Homo sapiens: one gene and its partners. The protein of the gene in region 3 purifies or fractionates together with the protein of the main gene of each other region. This does not show direct contact. Each region holds a gene or a part of one and is shown on either strand. Other genes may lie near its edges. The genes, in order: SFXN5, RDH13 and PON1.

The links.
Region 1: the proteins of PON1 (region 3) and SFXN5 purify together in Homo sapiens (affinity purification with mass spectrometry; 2 studies listed by BioGRID and IntAct, with this or other methods). This does not show direct contact.
Region 2: the proteins of PON1 (region 3) and RDH13 purify together in Homo sapiens (affinity purification with mass spectrometry; 2 studies listed by BioGRID and IntAct, with this or other methods). This does not show direct contact.

Annotation. Positions count from the first base shown.
Region 1 is NC_000002.12:73,061,648-73,068,754, reverse strand, and holds part of SFXN5 (sideroflexin-5), read left to right. Parts: intron 1-7,107. UniProt on the Homo sapiens protein: Mitochondrial amino-acid transporter. Transports citrate. Does not act as a serine transporter: not able to mediate transport of serine into mitochondria.
Region 2 is NC_000019.10:55,060,096-55,067,733, forward strand, and holds the start of RDH13 (retinol dehydrogenase 13 isoform 1 precursor), read right to left. Parts: upstream 3,054-7,638; 5' UTR 2,938-3,053; coding exon 2,873-2,937; intron 1-2,872. UniProt on the Homo sapiens protein: Retinol dehydrogenase with a clear preference for NADP. Oxidizes all-trans-retinol, but seems to reduce all-trans-retinal with much higher efficiency. Has no activity toward steroids.
Region 3 is NC_000007.14:95,300,460-95,307,566, forward strand, and holds part of PON1 (serum paraoxonase/arylesterase 1), read right to left. Parts: intron 5,908-7,107; coding exon 5,826-5,907; intron 1,875-5,825; coding exon 1,746-1,874; intron 1-1,745. UniProt on the Homo sapiens protein: Hydrolyzes the toxic metabolites of a variety of organophosphorus insecticides. Capable of hydrolyzing a broad spectrum of organophosphate substrates and lactones, and a number of aromatic carboxylic acid esters.

The DNA of each region.
Region 1 (7,107 bases), on a different chromosome or scaffold from region 3:
TGTCTCTCTGTTGACTATGGACTTTGCAGAAGTGGGGGCTGTGCCTGTCTTTACTCCCTGTTGACTCTCCAAGGCTCAGCACAGTGCCTGGCAGTTAAGAGGTGCTTAATGAAGATTTGTTATATACATGAATATCCTGGAGACAATTCAGTAGGGCTTTGCGGACTTGAATTAAATTGACTTGTAAGGTTGTGACTGGGGAGGTGGACCAACTTTTCTCCAAATTGTCCCTTAGGGATCTTACAAAATTGCAAGTGGTGTCATGTTTGACAGTGTAAGGTTCATCAGTGCTGAGACATCCCAGAGTTGGGGTGTCTCTAAGGAGGTGAGTCTAAAGACACAAAGGTTGGCTACATATGTACTGGGTTGATGAGCTCCTTTAGGGCCCAGCCCACATCTCTGTGTCCTGCCCTGGCATGTAATAGTTGTGTAATATATATGCTCATAGTACCTTGTGCTGGCCTGACAGAAGCCTGCTTCAAGGTGGTTGATAATCCAGGGTTCATTCCCAGCACCCATGCCAGGGACATGACCCTTATTCCCCAATTAATCTCACCGCTTTCTGCAGGATTTGTTACCAAGGTCTTTCCTTATTCCCTGGAGTCGCTCTAGAACTCCTCTTTATTCCCTCAAGTGTCTCCCTGTGCAAGAGGACGGGCAGAAAGAGGGTGGAGGGTGTGGAGGGTCAGAGTGTGAAGAAAGGGTGATGAGTGTTGGTGGTCTGTGACCATCTTTCTCCCCATAAGATGGTGACGATAGCCAAGCATCATTCCAGCCTTTTTGTGTATTGACTTACTGAATTTTCACAACAACCCTGTGAAGCAGGTGCAATGATCTCCAATTTATGGGTAAGAAAACTACAGCACACAAACAGATTAAGTAAATTCCCAGGCAGTCTGTCTCCAGAGTTCATGTTTGTTTGTTGGTTTGTTGTCAACTTTTTATTATGGAAGTTTACAAACATACTAATCTGGAGACAGTTGTCAGTAAACCCCTATGCACCCATCATCCAGCTTCAACAGTTGCCAACTTAAAGCCGGCCTTGTTTCATCTATGCACCCACCCCCCACAACCCAATCAATGAATTACTCTGAAGCAAAGGCCAAACATCCCATCATTTCATTGAACCCACTAGTAGGTATCTCTAAAAAATAAGGACTCTTTGGTTAGCTTTTTAAAAATTTTTTTATTTTGGAATAATTTTAGAGAAGTCAAAAGACAACAAACAATTCCTGCCTAGCCCTCACCCATTGTCCTCTGTTATCATCTTGCATTGCCACAGTACATTTTTCAAAACTAAGAAACTAACATTGGTACATTATCGTTAACTACACTCCAGACTTCATTGAATTTTACTACTTTTTTTTACACTAATGTCTCCTTTCTGTCCCAGGATCCCATCCAGGAACATGTTACATTTAGTCATCATGTCTCTTTAGCCTCCTCTGGTCTGCGGCAGTCATAGTACCTGGGATAGTTTCTCAGACTTTGCTTGTTTTTGATGACCTTGACAATTTTGGAAGATATTTTATAGAGTGTCCCTCAACTTGGGTTGCCTAATGTCTTTCTTTTGGGTTTTGAGGTAAGAATATCACAGAGGTGAAATGCTCTCTTTATCACATGATATTGGAGGGTTTTTTGATTTGTTTAACATAACCATGTCCTTAACACACCTAAAATCATTATTTGTTTTTTCTTTTTTTTTAGAGACAGGGTTTCTGTCTGTCACCCACAATAGAGTACAGTGGAACAGTAATTAATGGCTCACTGCAGCCTTGAGCGCCTGGGCTCAAGCAATCCTCTGGCCTCTACCTCCAGAGTAGCTGGAACTACAGGGGTGTGCCACCATGCGTGGCTATATGTATTTTTTGTTTGTTTGTTTTCTTTCTGTTTTTTCTTTTCTTTTCTTTTTTTTTGTAGAGACAGGTGTCTTGCTATTTTGCTGAGGCTGGTATCAAACCCCTGGCCTCTAATGATTGTTCTGCCTGGCCCTCCCAAAGTGCTGGGATTTACAGGCATGAGCCACCATGCCTGGCCCATTAATTCTTAATATCATCAAGTAACCAGTCGCTATTCATATTTCCCTGACCATCACTTAATTTATTTGTAGTTGATTTGTTTGAATCAGGATCCCATAAGTCCCACATATTATTACCTTTGGGTATTTCTCTTTTGTATCTTTTATTTTTTTTTTTTGGAGACAGAGTCTCTCTCTGTCGCCCAGGCTGGAGTGCAGTGGCATGATGTCAGCTCACTGCAACCTCCGCCTCCCGGGTTCAAGTGATTCTCCTGCCTTAGCCTCCTGAGTAGCTGGGATTACGGGCGCATGCCACCATGCCTTGCTAATTTTTGTATTTTTAGTAGAGATGGGGTTTCACCATGTTGGCCAGGCTGGTCTCAAACTCCTGACCTCAGGTGATCCACCCGCCTCGGCCTCCCAAAGTGCTGGGGTTACAGGCGTGAGCTACCACACCCGGCCTCTTTTGTATCTTTTAATCTGTTAGTTCTGTCTTCCTTTTTTCCCTTCCTATTGAAGAAGCAGTTGTTCGTCCCTGTAGAATTCCCCACCTTCTCAATGTTGCTGATGGCATCTCTGTGGTAGTGGTTAGCATGTTCCTTTATCCCTTGTTTCTCCTGTAAACTTAAAGTCTATGCATTTAACCACTACTCCAGCTGCCTAGTGAAAGGGAGGAGATGACAGCACAGCACCCAGGGAACCTCTGAGACCTGCTTTGCTTCCTTTCCTCTTCCTTTTCTGGTCATTTCCTCTCCTGAACTCACTGTTTTTCCTTCCGGCCCAGACACCATGTTTGCCATGTTGGGGCCCCAGGACAGGAAACAAACACACATACTTTCTCCCATTTGTGTTTCAGTCCATCTGTAAATAAATTGTTGTCCAGGACCAGGCGCGGTGGCTCATGCTTGTAATCCCAGCACTTTGGGAGGCTAAGGCGGGCAGATCACTTGATGACAGGAGTTCGAGATCAGCCTGGCCAACATGGTGAAACCTGTCTCTACTAAAAAATACAAAAAATAGCCCTTCAAGATTCCCCCACATGGCCAGGCACAGTGACTCATGCCTGTAATCCCAGCACTCTGGGAGGCCAAGGCGGGCAGATCACTTGAGGTCAGGAGTTCAAGACCAGCCTGGCCAACATGGCAAAACCCTGTCTCTACAAAATACAAAAATTATGTGAGCATGGTGGCAGGCGCCTATAATCCCAGCTACTCAGGACTGAAGCAGGAGAATTGCTTGAACCCGGGAGGCAGAGGTTGCAGTGAGCCGAGATTGCACCATTGCACTCCAGCCTGGGCAACAAGAGCGAAACTCTATCTCAAAAAAAAAAATTGTTGTCCAGGTGCAGTTGGCTCATGCCTGTAATCCCAGCACTTCGAGAGGCCAAGGCAGGAGGATTGCTTGAGGCCAGGAGCTTGAGACCAGCCTGGACAACATAGTGAGACCCCATGTCTACAAAAAATTGAAAAACTAGCTCGGCGTGGTAGCATGCACCTGTAGTCCCAGCTACTTGGGAGGCTGGGGCAGGAGGATCCCTTGAGTCCAGAAGTCTGAGGCTGCAGTGAGCTATGATCACACAACTGCACTCCAGCTGGGCAACAGAGTGAGACCCTGTCTCAGAAAGAAGGGAAGAAGTTTTTTAACAACTTCTGGCGAGGTGTGGTGGCTCATGCTTGTAATGCCAGCACTTTGAGAGGCCAAGGTGGGCAGATTGCTTGATCCCAGAAGTTTGAGACCAGTCCAGGCAACATGGCGAAACCCCGTCTCTACAAAAAATATAAAAATTATCCAGGTGTGGTGACACATGCTTGTAGTCCCAGCCACTCTAGAGGGTGAGGTGGGAGAATCACCCGAGTCCAGGAAGTGGAGGTTGTAGTGAGCTATGATCGTGCCACTGCACTCCAGCCTGGGTGACAAAGTGAGACTGTGTCTCAAAAATAAAACAAAAATTCCTTGCTCCTTTGGAAGTCTCACTTATCTGCTGAGATGACTGGGGGTATGAGTGTGCTGGGGACCAAGGCCTAGTGGGGCAGAGCAGGCTGGTTGCACAGGGCTCCCTCTGGGGTATGGAGAGCTTGCTGGGCAGACAAATGCTTTCTTCACTTCAAGGTTGGGAGATTTGTGTGGGCTGAGAGTTGGGAGGCAGGGGGGATATGTCTCATAGTTTGCTTGAAATAAAGTTCTAAAATCACAGTACCTTGCAGGTGGTTATATATTTTAATCATTTACTTCCTATAGGCGAGACAGTGAGTTTTTTCTAGTGCTGCTCCTGGGCTGGTTTGTGCAGTGGAGAGGGGTCATAATTTCCAAGAGTCACACTGGGCAGGTTTTAAAATAGACACTGATGCCTGGAGGCCACACCCAGAGCAATAGAATCAGAATCCCTGGGTGTATGGCCTGGTTTTTGAAGTACCCAGGTGGTTCAGGGTGCAGCTGATTCAGGACTACTGGGCTGGCCCAGCCTTTCTGCTTTGGGCTGTAGGTTCAGCGAGTATATTATTCCTAATCGAAGAGCAGTAATTTGGAGGTCTGGTGTGTGTAGTTGCGGGGCGGTGTCAGCTTCTTCTGGGATCTTTGCCCTCTGCTGCTGCTCCCAAGGCCTGCTCTTCCCTGGGGGGCTTGCAGATGGGAGAGAGCTGGCTGGTGGAGGTGGGAAGGCAGCTGCTGCTGTAGGCCCTGGCTCCTGCTGAGAATTAGCTGACTCACCTTTCTTATGAAGGGAAAGAGAAGGAATCACTTGGCTGACTCATTCTTCCAGTAAAGAAAAAGGGGAGGAAAAACATCCACCGATTGTGCGATTGGGTAAAGATGGGAGCTGAATTTGGGAGGGAGGCTATACATTTTGAACTATTGAGAAAATAAAAATGAACTGAGACTGAGAAAGTATAACCTTCCTTGCCATTCATCAGACAGGGAGGACAGACACAGAGCCAGCTGCAAAGAAAGAATGTTTCTCACGAGGACCCACAGGATCTATAAAGTATCGAACAACCTTCTTCCAGTAACCACCTCTTTCATACTCATGTCTCACTCTATAAGGTCCTAGACTGCCAGGAACTTTGCTGTTTAAGTCATATCATTAGGAATGAACCATCTACCTCTTGATTGGCAGGTCTAAGTCACTTTGCCTCGGAGAATCAACCCATAGCTGCAAATAAGGGGTTTCTGGTCACAACGTTTCTCATTAATCTTAACTTTATAGTTTTTAAGGAAACAAGACCCTGAGTGGTTGGTCCAGACCTATGATGACTCCTTTTCACACAGTCTTGCTTTGCTTGGAGCCTATTGAAGCACTGCTTCATTTACATTTTACTCTATCTTCCTTAAATTATATACCAAATATTTTTCTTTGTTTGGCAAGGCACCCCATAATTCCTCTGCTGTGGTGCTTTTCTTTGTTGAGTGAGTCAGTAAATCTGACTTGGTCAGACTATAGGTTTGTCTCTATAGTGGGTGGGGTGGGGGTCTTAGGGCAATCTGTACCTGACATTTCCAATTCAGAGTCTCTTTCTTGAATCTCAGTCCAAATGTTTGCTGAAAAATTATATCTGGAAGTCCCTTTAAATATCTCAGACTGATATGACCAATACAGAGTTTTTATCTTCTTTCCACTTAATCAGTATGCTTCTTCCTGTCCCTATTCTGGTTAACAAACATTCATGTCTCACTAGAAAGTGAGGCATCATCTGTGGCTGCTCTTCCTCATTTCCCCACAGTCGGTCAGCCTTGCTACCTCCAGGACCTAGCACAGTGCTGGGCACACAGTAGATCCTCGGTAGTGGGTTGAATGATGAATGAATGAAGAGACCACAGGAGTCTGGTGCAGCTTCTGATCCTAAGCTTTATGCTTTCATCCTCTTGCATATACCCTCCTCTGCTAGGTAAACTCATCCATCCCTTGGTCCCAGCTCCTCTGGGACACCTCCTTGACTTAAACTAGGAAGACATAGGAAGAACTCTGTGTGTCCCCAGTATACTTCGCGATGCTTCATTTAAACTCTGATCAGTGTTTTGTAGTTACTTGTTTATAGTTATTAGTCTGTTTTGATGGGCTGTGAGCTCTTTGAGGGCTTGTTCATTTGGTGTCTGTCCCCTGAGCCTAGCTCATTAGGAGTTTGTAGGTGTCTGTGGAGCAAAATGCCTTATCTGGGAGTCTCCCCCAGTAGCTATGGTCGAAAGTGACACAAGAAGGCTGGCAGGGCTGGGACAGGATGAAGACCGTGCCAGACCATAGGACAAGTCAAAGGCTGAAGTTTCTGCTGGACCATCTTCAAGAAGTTGCTTCACTCAGGCCATTCTACTTCCAGGTTCTCTCCTCTTCCCCTGCTCATCCTCTTTCCTCCTTGGACCACTAGCTGCCATACTGTTACCCTTTCCTAATCCTGCCCTCCCTTCAAAGCCCAGCCCAGCTCTACCCCACCCAGAAGCCTTGAGGCCATTGGCTGCTCATCAGCCCACTCATGGATTCCTGTGGCAGAAGACCCTTCCTTCCAGATATGTAAGGAGACTTCGAGCCAGGGAGGATAAGGAAGGAACATTCAATAGCCCATGTCCTTCAGGAGCTCTTAATCAAGTATAATACTTAAAATATCAGTTCATGTTTTACTTTATTTTATTTTTGGAGACAGGCTCTCACTCTGTCACCCAGGCTGGAGTGCAGTGGCATGATCATAGCTCACTGCAGCCTCGAACTCCTGGGCTGAAGTGGTCCTCCTACCTCAGCCTCCTAAGTAGCTGGGACTACAGGTGTATACCACCATGCCTGGCTAATTTTTAAAATTTTTTGTAGAGATGGGGTTTCACTGTGTTGCCCAGGCTGATCTCAAACTCCTGGGCTCAAGTGATCCTATCACTTCAGCCTCCCAAGTAGCTGGGATTATAGGAGCAAGCCACTGTGACTGGCTTGCATTTTACTCTAAATATGTATTTTTAAATGTAATATCATTTCTGTATATTAGGTATAATATTGATTTTTTTAATTTCAAAAGCAATTTAAAGATCTGGAAATATAAATCATACATAAGCCTATTACCCAGAGGCAATCTCTATTAGCATTTTAGTATATTTTCATCTAGCTTTTTTGAAAATAT
Region 2 (7,638 bases), on a different chromosome or scaffold from region 3:
TGACCGTCCCCCAGCCCAACACCCGTAAAGGGTCTGTGCTGAGGTGGATTGGTAAAAGAGGAAAGCCTCTTGCAGTTGAGAGAGAGGAAGGCCACTGTCTCCTGCCTGACCCTGGGAACTGAATGTCTCGGTATAAAACCTGATTGTACATTTGTTCAATTCTGAGACAGGAGAAAAGCCGCCCTATGGCGGGAGGCGAGACATGTTTACAGCAATGCTGCCTTGTTATTCTTTACTCCGCTGAGATGTTTGGGTGGAGAGAAACATCAATCTGGCCTACGTGCACGTCCAGGCATAGTACCTTCCCTTGAACTTAATTATGTCATAGATTCTTTTGCTCACATGGTTTTTGCTGACCTCATTATCACCCTGCTCTCCTACTACATTCCTTTTTGCTGAAATAATGAAGATAATAATCAGTAAAAACTGAGGGAACTCAGAGGCCGGTGCCGGTGCAGGTCCTTGGTATGCTGAGCGCCGGTCCCCTGGGCCCACTGTTGTTTCTCTATACTTTGTGTCTTATTTCTTTTCTCAGTCTCTCGTCCCACCCAACTAGAAATACCCACAGGTGTGGAGGGGCAGGCCACCCCTTCACAGGCGTGGTGGTGCACACCTGTAATCTCAGCTACTCAGGGGGCTGAGGCACGAGAATTGCTTGAACCTGGAAGGCGGAGGTTGCAGTGAGTCGAAATGGTGCCAGCCTGGGCAACAGAGCGAGACTCTGTCTCAAAAAAATTTAAATTTAAATTTAAAATGCCCGCTGCACGAGATTCCCAAGGCTGCTGTACGCATTACCACAGACTTAGTGGCTTAAAACCACATAAGTGCATCCTCCTCCAGTTCGGCAGGTCAAGAGTCCAAAACATGTCTCACTGGAATAAATCAAGGTATTGGTAGAGTCAGGTTCCTTCTGGAGGCTCTAGGGAAGAATCCACTTCCAGCTCCTACAGACCGCCACATTCCTCCACTCTTGGCCCCGCCTCCATCTTCAACCTGCATCCTCACTGGAACCTCTCCTTTATTTATTTATTTATTTACTTATTTATTTTTGAGACAGAGTCTCGCTCTGTCGCCCAGGCTGGAGTGCAGTGGCTCAATCTCAGCTCACTGTAACCTTCGCCTCACAGGTTCAAGCGATTCTCCTGCCTTAGCCTCCTGAGTGGCTGGGATTACAGGCACATGCCACCACACCTGGCTAATTTCTTTTGTATTTTTAGTAGAGACAGAGTTTTACCACGTTGGTCAGGCTGGTCTCGAACTCCTGACCTTGTGATCCGCCTGCCTTGGCCTCCCAAAGTGCTGCGATTACAGGCGTGAGCCACCACACCCAACAACCTCTCCTTCTATCTTCCATCTCCCCTCTGACTGAGCCTCCTGCTCCCTCTTATAAGGACCCTATAAGACTACAAGGCAGGACCGGCACAGTGCCTCACACCTGTAATCCCAGCACTTTGGGAGGCCAAGACAGGAGGATCACTTGAGGTCAGGAGTTCGAGACCAGCCATGGCCAACATGCTGACACCCCATCTCTACTAAAAATACAAAAATTAGCAGGGCTTGGTGGTGCACGCCTGTAGAGTCAGCTACTCGGGAGGCTGAAGTGGGAGGACCACCTGAGCCCAGGGAGGGTGAGGCTGCAGTGAGCTGTGACAGCATGACTGCACTCCAGCCTGGGTGACAGAGAGACCCTGTCTCCAAAAAAAAAAAAAGACTACATGATAATCATAAGATCCTTCACTTGGCCGGGCACGGTGGCTCACGCCTGTAACCCCAGCACTTTGGGAGGCCAAGGTGGCCAGATCCCCTTTGGTCGGGAGCTCAAGACCAGCCTGACCAACATGGAGAAACCTCGTCTCTACTAAAAATACAAAATTAGACAGGCGTGGTGGCACATGCCTGTAATCCCAGCTACTCAGGAGGCTGAGGCCGGACAATCGCTTGAACCCGGGAGGTGGAGGTTGTGGTGAGCCGAGGTCGTGCCATTGCACTCCAGCCTGGGCAACAACAGCGAAACTCTGTCTCAAAAAAAAAAAAGATGCTTCACTTAACACATCAGCGAGAACCTCTGACACGTGAGGTAATGTCGTCACACCTTCCGAGGATTAGGACGTGGACCCCTCTACGGAGTCACGACTCTGCCCACCACACCCATGTCCCACAGAGGCTAACGCTGGCAACAAGATAGTGTCCAGCAACAGGAGGCTGAGCAGGTAAACAGCACTGCACCCACAGGAGAGAAGGGCACCATGCAATACAGTGGCCACCAGCCACAGAGGCTAATTTTTAAGAAAGTTTAAATTAAGTAGGCTGGGCGAGGTGGCTCACGTCTGTAATCCCAGCACTTTGGAGGCCGAGGCAGGCGGATCACCTGAGGGCAGGTGTTTGAGACCAGCCTGGCCAACATGGCAAAACCCCGTCTCTGCGAAAAATACAAAAATTAGCCGGGCGTGGTGGCGCACGTGTGATCTCAGCTCCTGGGGACGCCAAGGTGGGAGGATCACCTGAGCCCAGGAGGTCAAGGCTGCAGTGAGCCAAGATCGCGCCACTGCACTCCAGCCTGGGCGACAGAGCCAGATTCTGCCTTTAAAAATAAACGAACAAATAAATAATACAAAACAACAAAATAAAGAGTTTAAAAGTCTGGAAGGAAAGCAACATTTACAAGGGCCCAGGCTCGCCCTTCCCTCCGAGTGACCTTGGGCCGGTGACCTGGCCGGCCAGAGCGCAGGTTTGCCCCACTCCGGGCGGGCACTGCGGGTCGGGAGCTACGGGGCCTGGACCCGGGTGCGAGGGGCGGGGGTCTCCGCCGCCTTCCCGGCCCCTGCGCTGGGGGCCCGCCTTGACCGCGCACGCGGGGCTAGAATGTACTCACTTGAGCAGCACGGCGGCGCCTGCTACCGTGCCCAGCGCCGACAGCGGCAGCAGGTAGCGGCTCATGCCGGGCCGGGGACAGGCGTCAGGCGTCAGGGGTCGGCGCGGAGCTTGCTGCACACCAGCCGCCTGGGTAGCTCCGAGGAAGAGCGCGCGACGCAGCCACAGGCGAGCGGAGGCGCAGGCGCGGCTGGGCCCGCGTCCGGAACTGGGCTGCGAGGGGCGGGGCGCGGGCGGAGGGGGCGGGGATCCTAGGGACGGGACCTATGAGCATCGGTCCTGAGCGCTGTCACAGCTGGGATTGGTGGTTTCAGGAGCCTGTGGGCGTGGCTAGTCCGGGGGCGGGGCCTATGGTTTGTTCGAATGACGTCACACTTGCCGCAGCGTATAAGGCGCTACGCAGTTCTGGAGTGAAATAGGTTCGAATCCCACCACTGTCAATTCCAGACTGTGACCCTCTGTGTGTCTTTCAACTATATCAGCCTATTCCCTCATCTGGAAATGTGTGTTTACCTTCTTCATAGACTTTTGGAGATAATTTGAGAATTTCCATGCACAGAAACAAGGATCTAGTAGCCTGTGGGTACCCAAGCTCCTGGGGTCCTGCAGGAGAAGGCGGCTGGGGGCCTGGACTCCTGGGTCTGAGGGAGGAGGGGCTGGGGGCCTGGACTCCTGGGTCCAAGGGAGGAGGGGCTGGGAGCATGGACTTCTGGGTCCGAGGGAGGAGGGCCGGGTGCCTGGACTGCTGAGTCTGAGGGAGGAGGGGCTGGGGGCCTGATTCATTCCCAAATTATCAGAATCTCATCCCCATGTCTGGCCCTGCACAGAGATATCTTCCCTGAACTCTGCCTGAACTACCTTTCTTAGATTGAGTATTGCACACACTCCTGCACTTACCTGTCCATGTTTGTCACCCCCACCAAACCGGGATGCACCTCTGGGCACCTGCTTCCCCTTGCACTGCTCACAGCGAGTGTATCTGATCACCACCTCCTACCCCTGACTGTGCCTGAGGTGCCAGGAGCAGACACCGCTGGAAACAGGGAAGAATTCAACCCAATCTAACTAGGAGTAAGTTTTCTTCCTCATCAGATGAACTGTCATCTTCTTATATGAGCCCTGCCATAATGGAGATTATACAGGCAGGAAGAGCTATTTTAAGACCTTAGTCAATGGCCGGGCACGGTGGCTCACGCCTGTAATCCCAGCACTTTGGGAGGCCGAGACAGATGGATCACGAGGTCAGGAGATTGATACCAGCCTGGCCAACATGGTGAAACCCTGTCTCTACTAAAAATACAAAAATTAGCTGGATGTGGTGGCACTCACCTGTAGTCCCAGCTACTCAGGAGGCCGAAGCAGGAGCATCACTTGAACTCGGGAGGTGGAGGTTGCAGTGAGCCGAGATTGCCCTACTGCATTCCAGCCTGGCGACAGAGTGAAATTCTGTCAAAAAAAAAAAAACCTTAGGCCTGTAGACCTTAAGCTCTCACCATCTCAAACGTATTAAACCAGTTACACAATGCCAAATGCTGTATAAGAGGCACTTGGAGGAGTCAAATTCATAGAGACAGAAAACAGAGTGGTGGCTGCAGGGGGCTGGAGATGAGATTGGGAAGTCACAGGATTTGTTTTTGTTTGTTTGTTTGTTTTGTTTTGTTTTTTGAGAGACAGTCTCACTGTGTCACCCAGGCTGGAGAGCAGTGGGCGATCTCAGCTCACTGCAACCTCTGCCTCCTAGGTTCAAGCGATTCTCCTGCCTCAGCCTCCCGAGTAGCTGGGGCTACAGGCACGTGTCACCACACCCGGCTAATTTTTGTATTTTTAGTAGAGACGGGGTTTCACCATGTTGGCCAGGTTGGTCTCAAACTCCTGACCTCAGGTGATCCACCTGCCTCGGCCACCCAAAGTGCTGGGATTACAGGCATGAGCCACCGCACCCGGCCGGGAAGCTGTTTTTTAATAGATACAGAGTTTGTTTTGCAAAATAAAAAAAAGACCTGAAGGTGGACGGTGGTGATGGTTGCACAACAATGTGAATATACTTAACATCACTGAATTGTACACTTAAAATGGTTAAGATGGTACATTTTACTTTATGCATAGTTTACCAAACTAAAAATAAAGAAAAATTTTAGACTGGGCATGGTGGCTCATGCCTGTAATCCCAGCACTTTGGGAGGCCAAAGTGGAGAATAGTATGAGCCCAGGAGTTTGAGAGCGGCCTGGACAACACGGCAAAACCTTATCTCTACAAAAAATACAAAAATTAGCAGGTTTGGTGGCACGCATCTGCACCCTCAGCTACTTGGGAGGCTGAGGTGGGAGGTCTGCTTGAGCCCAGGAGGTCAAGGCTATGATGAGCTGTGATTGTGCCACTGCACCCCAGGCTGGGTGACAGAGCAAGACCCCATCTCAAAAATAATAATAATAAATGTTTACATTTAATAACATGGGCAATTGGTTCAGATGTTCATTTTCTCAACCTTGAAAAAAAAACAACACTGTTTTTCCCTGTCTTTTTCTCCTTTTCTGTAAACTGAAATCCTAATATCATTGACTTCCAGGACAGAGATCAGCAAACTTTTTCTACAAACAGCCAGATAGTAAATAATTTCAGCTTTGTGATCCACACAGTGGCTGTTGCACCTCCTCTGCCAGAGGAGCTGGGAAGCAGCCACAGATGATGTGAAAACAAGTGAGCACAGCTGTGTTCCCATAAAACTTTATTTATAAAAATAAGCAGTGCGCCACAGTTCGCCAGCTCCTGTTTGAGAGTCTCTCTCCGATGCCCAGGCTGGAGCGCAGTGATGCAATCTCAGCTCACTGCAACCTCTGCCTCCTGGGTTCAAGCGATTCTCCTGCCTCAGCCTCATGAGTAGCTGGGATTACAGGCGCTCGCCGCCACACCTGGCTGATTTTTGTATTTTTAGTAGAGACGGGGTTTCACCATGTTGGCCAGGCTGGTTTTGAACTCCAGGCTTCAGGTGATCCACCTGCCTCAGCCTCCCAAAGTGCTGGGATTACAAAGCGTGAGCCACTGCGCCCAGCTACCTGTCATTGAATTTGGAAGGATGGCATGAAGTCATTCATAACAAGGACTTAATCCATAGTAAGTGCCAGAACATTGCTGGCTGTTAATATGGTTATTATAAAGAGAACAATGCATGCATATTCCTCCTCTGAGGATCTCCTACCTGATTCCCAGACACACCCAAGGGAGTTAGAACATCTGTTTGGACTCCAGGTGGGCTGTCCACGCCTTTACCATTTTCCTGGTTGTTAACATGTTCCTGATCAGCACTGGGTGCTGTCCCAGGTGCTGAGAGGATTCTCCCACAATGCCCTTTGCTTTCCCCATCAGAGGGTTTATGGCACCCAATTCTCATTCACATTCTGTCTCTCCTTTCTCGTTCTTCTCTATCTCTCCTCTCTCTGTCTCCTTTTCTCTTCCTCTCTCCCTCTCTGTCTTCTCTCCCTCTCTCTCCCTCTCTCTTCCTCTCTCTCTTCCTCTGTCCTCTTTTCTCTCTCTCTCTCCCTCTCTCTCACATCTCTCTTTCCCTTCCTTTCTCTTTCCTCTCTCTTCCTCTCTCCCTCTCCCTCCTTCTGTCTTCCTCTATCCCTCTCTTCCTCTTTTTTCTTCCTCTCTTCTTGTCTCTTTCTCTCCTCTCTCTCTCCCTCTTTCTCTTTCTCTCTCTCTTCCTCTCCCTTCCTCTTCCTCTCTCTCCTTCTTTCTTCCTCTCTCTCTTCTTGTGTGTGTCTCTCTCTCTCTGTTCTCTCTCTCCCTCTCCCCCCAACTCTCTTTCCCTACACACATCTTAAGAGGCCTCAGCAGTGTAAGGTAAGTTTAGCGACCCTGTGGCTGTGTAGAGATAAGCAAAGGGGGGCAAGGAGCTCCAGTGGTCCCAGACTCCAGCCATTTGAGTCTTTGCAGCCCAAGCACTGCCCCAGCTTCTTGACAGCCCCAGCCATCACCAAAGGGCACACAGATAAGCTGCCTCCACCAAGGCCTGTGCAGATGGTAGGTTTTTGAGTAAAATAGATATGATCCTTGTCTGAAGCCACTGAGTTTTAGAATAATTTGTTATATGGCCATAGTAACTGGAATGATTGCTGTAGGTTTATTTTATTTTATTCATCCTTGCTGCATGCAACACATGCATGGCTCAGTAACTAGAAGGAAAGAAGAGAAGAAGGGAGGGAGAGGCAGAGGGTGGACAGGAGAGGATGGTAGGAAGGAAAGACAGGAAAGGAGGGTGTTGGTGGCCTTGCCTGCAAGCTGAGCAGACACCACGCAAACAGGTGACCTCCCAGTTAAGATGGAGGGGACTCAGGGCTCAGGAGGGGCAGAAGGTCCCCGTGTCGGAGAGCTGGGCAAGCTTTCTGCAGGAAATGATGGGGATCACGGCCATGTGAGCCGGCAAGATTTCCCTCAGCCAGGGAGGAGACTCCGGGCTGTGGGAACAGCTTAAGCAGAAGGCATGGGACAGGAATGCATATGAGAGATATTGTGGGAGGAGGGAGGGCTGCCTGGGCTGGCATGCAGGGTATGGGAGGGGGTGGAAGGGCTGAGGCGGGAGCCATCAGTAAAAGGACCCAGAGCGCGGCTCCAATGCCATGGTAGGAAGCTTGGCGTTGACTCAGAGGGCGCTGGGTACCGCTGAAGAGTGTTGAGCCAAGGAGGGTCATGTCACGGGCAGATACATGTTTTAGAATTTCTTCTTTTCTGGCTGAGATGTAGAGTATGGACTGGAGAGAAGCACAGGG
Region 3 (7,107 bases):
GGGAACGTTCAAAATGACCTCTTAAAAACAGCTGGCACCAAAGACAGATGTCTTAGGAAGTTGCCATAGCATTAACATGTAGTAGTTACAGGGAAATAGTTGATGGTACACCTTGGCTTAGCTAAGCTTCTTGTTAATAAAACTAAATCACTCATCTAGGGGCAGTGCATTGGATAAGGAATTGTTACTACTTTTTGCTACTCCTTTGCAGATCAATCATTAGAAATGAAGTATTTTCTCCAGAACAACAAACCAAGTCCATGCTATAGCAAATGACCCAAGGTTACTAAATGAGCTAACAAGCAAGAACAAATTAGAATCTAACATTCTGCTCAGTTCTGAGCACTGAACACTCCACAGCATACATTTCTTCAATTCTATTAAACATACCATTCAGCAACCCTAATAGCTAAAAACTAGCAAAAGGCACAAAGGGTTGCCATTAAACATGATCACAATTGTCCTGCAAACCTAGAGATAAAAGGTAAGAGAGCCATAATGTAAATGGAAATACACATTTGTTTCTTTTTTTTTTAACCCAAGAGATACGGGCTTTAACACTTTTTTTTTTCCTGTTGGGCAGGTGAAATGGACTCTTAAAACTGAGCTTTAACAATACACAGCAGTAGACAAATATGTCAAGATGATATCATATATATGATGTAAGTAATAAGTATCCTTAGTAGATACTGAAAACTCAGTAAATGTGCAAATACCTATATTGAAGTAGGTTGCAAATTCTTACTTGTACCCAAAATAGTTCACTGAATAAAGACCGTGGACAAAAAATGGGACCTTTGAGTACTGTAACTAAGGTGGAAGATGAGATCTTCTAAGCCAGAATAATTCCAGCTATTTATCTTGCCACCTGCAGGAAGATCTAGAGAGGCTGGCCAGTGTGCTCCAGGACTGGTCCATTGCATGGACCTGTGCGTATACCGCCACACAGGAAGGGGGAGTTGAATAGGAAGGCAGGTAATGAATGATTAAACCATAGCAGTATGGCATCATTATGTTCTTTGAGGATCCCTTAACCAGAGGCCAAGTTCCTGTCAGGCAACCCTCTCCACCCACCACCGTCTACCTGTTCTGGCTTCTGGTATTCATTTCCTCCCTCCCTTGCTAGCCCTGGGGTACTGCATTATAACTCTGTTGATTACCCTACACTGTGTCCACACATTTTGTGTATAGTCCGTTGATTAAACTCCCCTCAAATTATCCAATTTAAGTGTGCCATGTGTTTCTTGCCTAGACTCTGACTAAAGCACCTCCAAAAGCCTTCATTTCTGATCATTTGGATCATCTATCCATGTCCCCCCTTTTATTTGCACATAGAATTGAGAATTGGCCGGGCACGGTGGCTCACGCCTGTAATCCCGGCACTTTGGGAGGCCGAGGCGGGTGGATCACAAGGTCAGCAGATCAAGACCATCCTGGCCAACAGGATGAAACCCTGTCTCTACTAAAAAAAAAAAAAAATACAAAAAATTAGCCAGGCATGGTGGCATGCGCCTGTGGTCCCAACTACTTGGGAGGCTGAGGCAGGAGAATGGTGTGAACCCGGGAGGCGGAGCTTGCAGTGAGCCAAGATTGCGCCACTGCACTCCAGCCTGGGCGACAGAGCGATACTCTGTCACAAAAAAAAAAAAAAAAAAAAAAAAACCAAGAATTGAGAATTATGTTGTCAACTGAAAAAACAGTAGCTGGGAATAAAGTCACTTATCTGGTTCATTTTTAAAACTTACCTCTGATGCAGGAGGATTCTCTGAGTCATAGAAGAAGATTTTCATGCCATTGGGATGGCATCCAACCCAAAGGTCTCCTGTCTCAGGATCCACAGATATGTTATCCACGAGGGTATTAAAGTCAAGGGACTTAAAAGATTAAAAACAAGAAAAGAACAAGACATAAAGTAAAACACAATTGTGATGGAGCAAAATATATCAGAGAAAAGTTGCCTCTTGTCCTTGGTCACCACGCTGCTGCTTCCAAGGATACAATTCTGCCCCATTTCAATAAGACTCACAAAATTTCTCTGACCTTTCATCTATGCTAGTATTTTGTCAGTTTCCAGGGCAGAATTGGGTAGGGTGAAGATACAGAAAGCCAAGAAAGACTGTTAAAAGTTAGACAAAATCATTTGTACCAACATCTGTGCATGAACCTAAAACTGAAAAAAAAAAGAAGTTTTCGGTGCATCATAAAACATCTCCTTCTAAAATGGCATGTGGTAATGATATTTTTATAAGCATTCAGAAAACAACCAGGAAATGTAGATTCTTTCTCAGAAGAATATCAATGAAATGTGGACTCTTTAATGGCTAATCATAGGCTGTGCAGCCAGAGAAGAAATGATCACCCAGGGTCTCATTTTTGCCTTGTAGTTGAGGAAAAGTTTGTTCTTTAGTTTCCTGATGTTGTTCAACTCCCCGTTCTTCTGCTGTTTATTCTCTAAATATAAGTTGCAAGCATTTGATGACTGCACAGATTGCTGTCGAGGCTTTGTACAAGGATCATAAATAATACCAATGATTCTTAATTCCACCATTCATCATCTTGGCTGCCTTCTACTGGGGAGAAATCCCATCTATTTGTTTACCTCTAATTCTCAGTTGGAGAAATAATATCTACCATGTACCTCAGAGGCCAGCATACCTCAGTGCCCAGAGAACCTGTAAATAACTGGTCATGACTCATTGAAAAAGCCAGGGCATAAGCAGACAGCTGCAGAAAACCAACGTTTCCCTGTGCCTCCTACTCAAAATGAGAGCTGTTCCTCACATGCCCAAGGAGGGATTAGAGGGCTCAAGCATCATGGCAGAGCCTCAGTCTCGCCACCATGCAGAGCCATCAGTCTTTCTTACCCCAGAGACAGGCAAGACAGGCGGCTCCATGCTTGCTTTCTCCATCCCTAAACCCCTGTCCATCCCAGTGTCAGCACACCACTCTGATACCATAATGTCTTTGAATGAGGAAAATGTTTGTTTCAGGGCTTTGCTCTTATCTTTGGAAGCAGTACAGCCAATTGGTGAATTCCACGGCAGATGAAACCTGAGATGAGAGTGGGAGTGGGAGAAGGACACAGAAACCTGGGGTCCCATTCATTCAAGACACAATTACTGAGCTCCTACATGAGCTCTGCAAGGAACGCAACACCTGGAGAGCACCAGGTACCCAGCAGACACAGCTCATGCCATGGAAGTGCTGACAGTCTAGCAGGGAGCCTGTTCTGAGTCCAGCAATGAACTCTTTGCCTTGCAAATAAATAATTCCTCTCCATGCTAACTCATGCAAGACCCCTGCGTATCACATCTCACACTCCCACAAAGGCAACTCGAAAAATTCGCATTCCTTGGTCAAGAAAACATAATAAATTATTCTCTTTGGGAAAAACAGAGTATTCTCTGTTAACAAATATTCCAGGTTTTTGCGCATTGAGGTTCATTGAAGTGTGACTAATTCATTGACTAAGTCCTGGAATCTTTTTTTGGAGAGAGGAGAGAATTATTTCTATCGTGGTAAAATATATAAAAATTTGACATTTTAACCATTTTTAAGTGTAAAACTCAGTGGCATTAAGTATATTCACAATGTTGTGCAACCATCATCACCATCCCTCTCCAGAACTTTTAATCAGCCCCAAATAGAAATCCTGTACCCATTAAACAATAGCTCCCTATTCTTCTCTCCCCCAAGTTCCTAGCAATCACCATTCTATTCTATTTTCTGTCTCCATGAATTTGCCTGTTCTAGGTACTTCCTATTAGTAAATCGTACAATATTTATCCTTTTGTTGCTGGCTTATGTCATTTAGCATCATGTTTTTCAAGGCTTATCCATGTTGTAGCAGGTATCAGAACTTCATTCCTTTTTTTTTTTTTTTTTTTTTTTAGATGGCGTTTTGCTCTTGTTGCCCAGACTGGAGTACAATGGTGTGATCTCAGCTCACTGCAACCTCCGCCTCCCAGGTTCAAGTGATTCTCCTGCCTCAGTCTCCCAGGTAGCTGGGATTATAGGCATGTGCCACCATGTCTGGCTAATTTTTTGTACCTTTAGTAGAGACGGGGTTTCACCATATTGGCCAGGCTGGTCTTGAACTCTTGACCTCGTGATCCACCCACCTCAGCCTCCCACAGTGCTGGGATTACAGGTGTGAGCCACCGCACCCGGCCAAGAACTTCATTCCTTTTTAAGGCTGAACAATATCCAATTGGACATAAACCCATCCACACCTCATCACAAATTTAAGAATAGCCTCAGCTAGTTTATCAAATTACTTGGCACTCTCGGGCATTAATTAACTGATATTAATTAATACGGTCTTTCAAAAGAAAGAATAATGTGACAATTGATGGAGAACCTTTTTGGGGTTTTCATGATGGGAGACAGGCCTGGTCTGTTGCTGAAACTGGCCTTGCCCTCAGTCTCACCCTGGTGAGAGCAGAGCCTTGACATTCTGTGGTGAATGTCTGTTACATTGGGTTCTATTCTCATAAAATTCTTTAACTTTTGTTTTACAGAAATACCTGTTGTTAAAACCGCAGCTTGTTTTTTATTCCCTTAGCCAGTATGAGCGTGTGAAATTCCATTTTACTTGAGCTAATACCAAACTAGCCCTGCCAGTGATTTTTAATGTCAAACACGATGTTACATTTGATGTTGCTTTAAGGTAATTTTCTCTGAGTGAGGCCCCTCATGACAGTCTCTCAGATGTGCTGACAGGAACAGTCATACAATTGGCGCTGACAGTGCTTCCTGCAGTGGGCGTTTATGGCAGGAAAGCAACGTCTTGCTGTTTTTCGGAGGTAGAGGGCTGCTTTCTTAGGGCTCTAGTTTGCTCTTGGTCTCTTTTTCCTCTCCTTTGTGTTTTCACCCATTTTGACTCCAACCTTCAGATGACCAGAATTGGTGGGGGCAGCAGGTGAATCCCTGAAGCATGCCCAGCCCCACCGCAGTAATTTAACAAGTATTTGTTAAGTGCCAACTAGTCAATGTGAATTGTACCAGAAGCAAATAGAAAAACAGCCTGTCCTTGTGGAGCTTACACCCTAGTTGGGGAATCAGGTAATAAAGGGTATGAATAAAATATATAGTATGTTAGCAATACGTGCTGAATGGAAAAATAAAGCAGGAAAGGCGAGGGAAAATACGTAGCGGGAGGGAGCAGTTCCAGGTTTTGAAGATCGAGGTGACGTTTTAGTAAAAATGAAAGGAGATGAAGGAGGGGGTCATGGAGATCTGGAGGAAGGTTTCTCCTCCTAGCAGAGGGAATGGTGCCCCGTTCTGAGACAGTGGCAGGAGACGTGGGGCAGGGACACAATGGTTGGAGGTAAAGGCAGAGAGGTGAGGGGCAGCCAGGTCACCTAGCAGCCATCGTGAGCACGTGGACTTCATAAACATTGTGGAGAGCAGCCCTGCATAAAGTACAATTTGAGGCTATTTCTTGGCTGTTCCATCAACATAGAGGAAAAAAGAGAAAGAAAAGGGAGGAGAGGGAAGGAAGGTGGAGGAGAGGGAGATCAGAAGAAAGGCAGGAAGGGAGGGATGGAAGGAGGATCTGGGAACACAATGCCAAGCTTAAAATTTGCTAGAGCAGAAAGAATGCAAGGTTCACGGGTAAGAGGTGGGGTTTGCTGTTTGCCACTCTGCAGTTGAGTAAAAATGAACAACAAACACATAACCAAGCTAATGACTCTTAATAAAGGAGTGAAAAATTGGTTCTCACCCACCCCAATTAAGCAGTCCTTTTTTCTTCACATTTAATTTCACAAATCAATTAGAATCTAATTATCACTCTGCAGACTTACAGTGTTAATACGTCTTACCTTCAATGGAGTTAAAGTCCAATTAGCATGCTTTTCATACACATGAATCTTATGAGCCAGCAACTCAGCTATATAGACATACCTTCAAAGAAGAAAGAGCTACATCAAAGTACTAGAAGTAACACAACTTGAGAGATTAAGATGAAGTTGTAATACCTATTCATAGGGAAGAACTTTGCTTAAGGAATGGAAAATGGAACCCACCTCAAACACACCAAATTCTGAAAGAACTCAGTGAGTTTACAGTGACAGAGGGGTTTAATCTCTGAAAAGTTGTTTCTGAAGGAGGGGACATAGTTGTCCTTATCAGTATGGGAGGAACTTAGCCCTAACACTAACTTTTAGTATCTGGGAGTAAAATGCATTACAGCGTTTCTCTTTTGGTTTGACAATTTAGTGTCAAGGCCCAGGTTCTGCATTTCAGGGGCTAGTGAGTTCTCTCTCGGGAAAGTTGCAGGAAAGCCCTTGGACAACAGCCCCTTGTTTTAATCCAGAGAAAATATGAGAGAAGAAAAGCTGCTTGGCTTGGATCAAGAGAAGTCTTCCTCCTCTTCTGCCCTGAGTGTGGTCCTGACCCTGTGGCTTTAGTCATACCCCACAAAGATCTGGGGTTAGTCTAAGCACTGTGCATCCCCCCAACAAAAAAAAGAAATTACTGCTCAATTATCTTCTATTTTTTGAAAACTGGTCTATGATATGAATAATTAAAAGCTGTCCCTGTCCCTGTTGCTCTCACTTGCTTGCTTGCTTGCTTTTTCTTTTCTTTCTTTCTTTCTTTTTTTTTTTTTTAAAAAAAAACAGAGTCTTGCTCTGTCACCCACGCTGGAGTGCAGTGGTGCAATCTCAGCTCACTGCAACCTCCACCTCCCAGGTTCAAGCAATTCTCCTGCCTGGCCTCCCTGGTAGCTGGGATTACAGGAGTGCGCCACCACGCCTGGCTAATTTTTGTATTTTTAGTAGAGATGGGGTTTCGCCATGATGGCCAGGCTGGTCTATGACCTCAGGTGATCCACCCACCTTGGCCTCCCGAAGTGCTAGGATTACAGGCATGAACCACCACACCTGGCCCCTGTTGCTTTCTCTAAGCATATGTTACGGACTCTAAAATCCTTGATGATGACACAAGATGAGAAAGGGCATATATGTGGATGGATATAGATATTTCATGTATATACCAATGCTACCCAAAATGCAGTCTCCAGACCAATGTTGGTTTGCAAATTGTTTGTTATAGCTCACCATGAGATAACATTATAAATCAAATACATCACTAAGCACACTG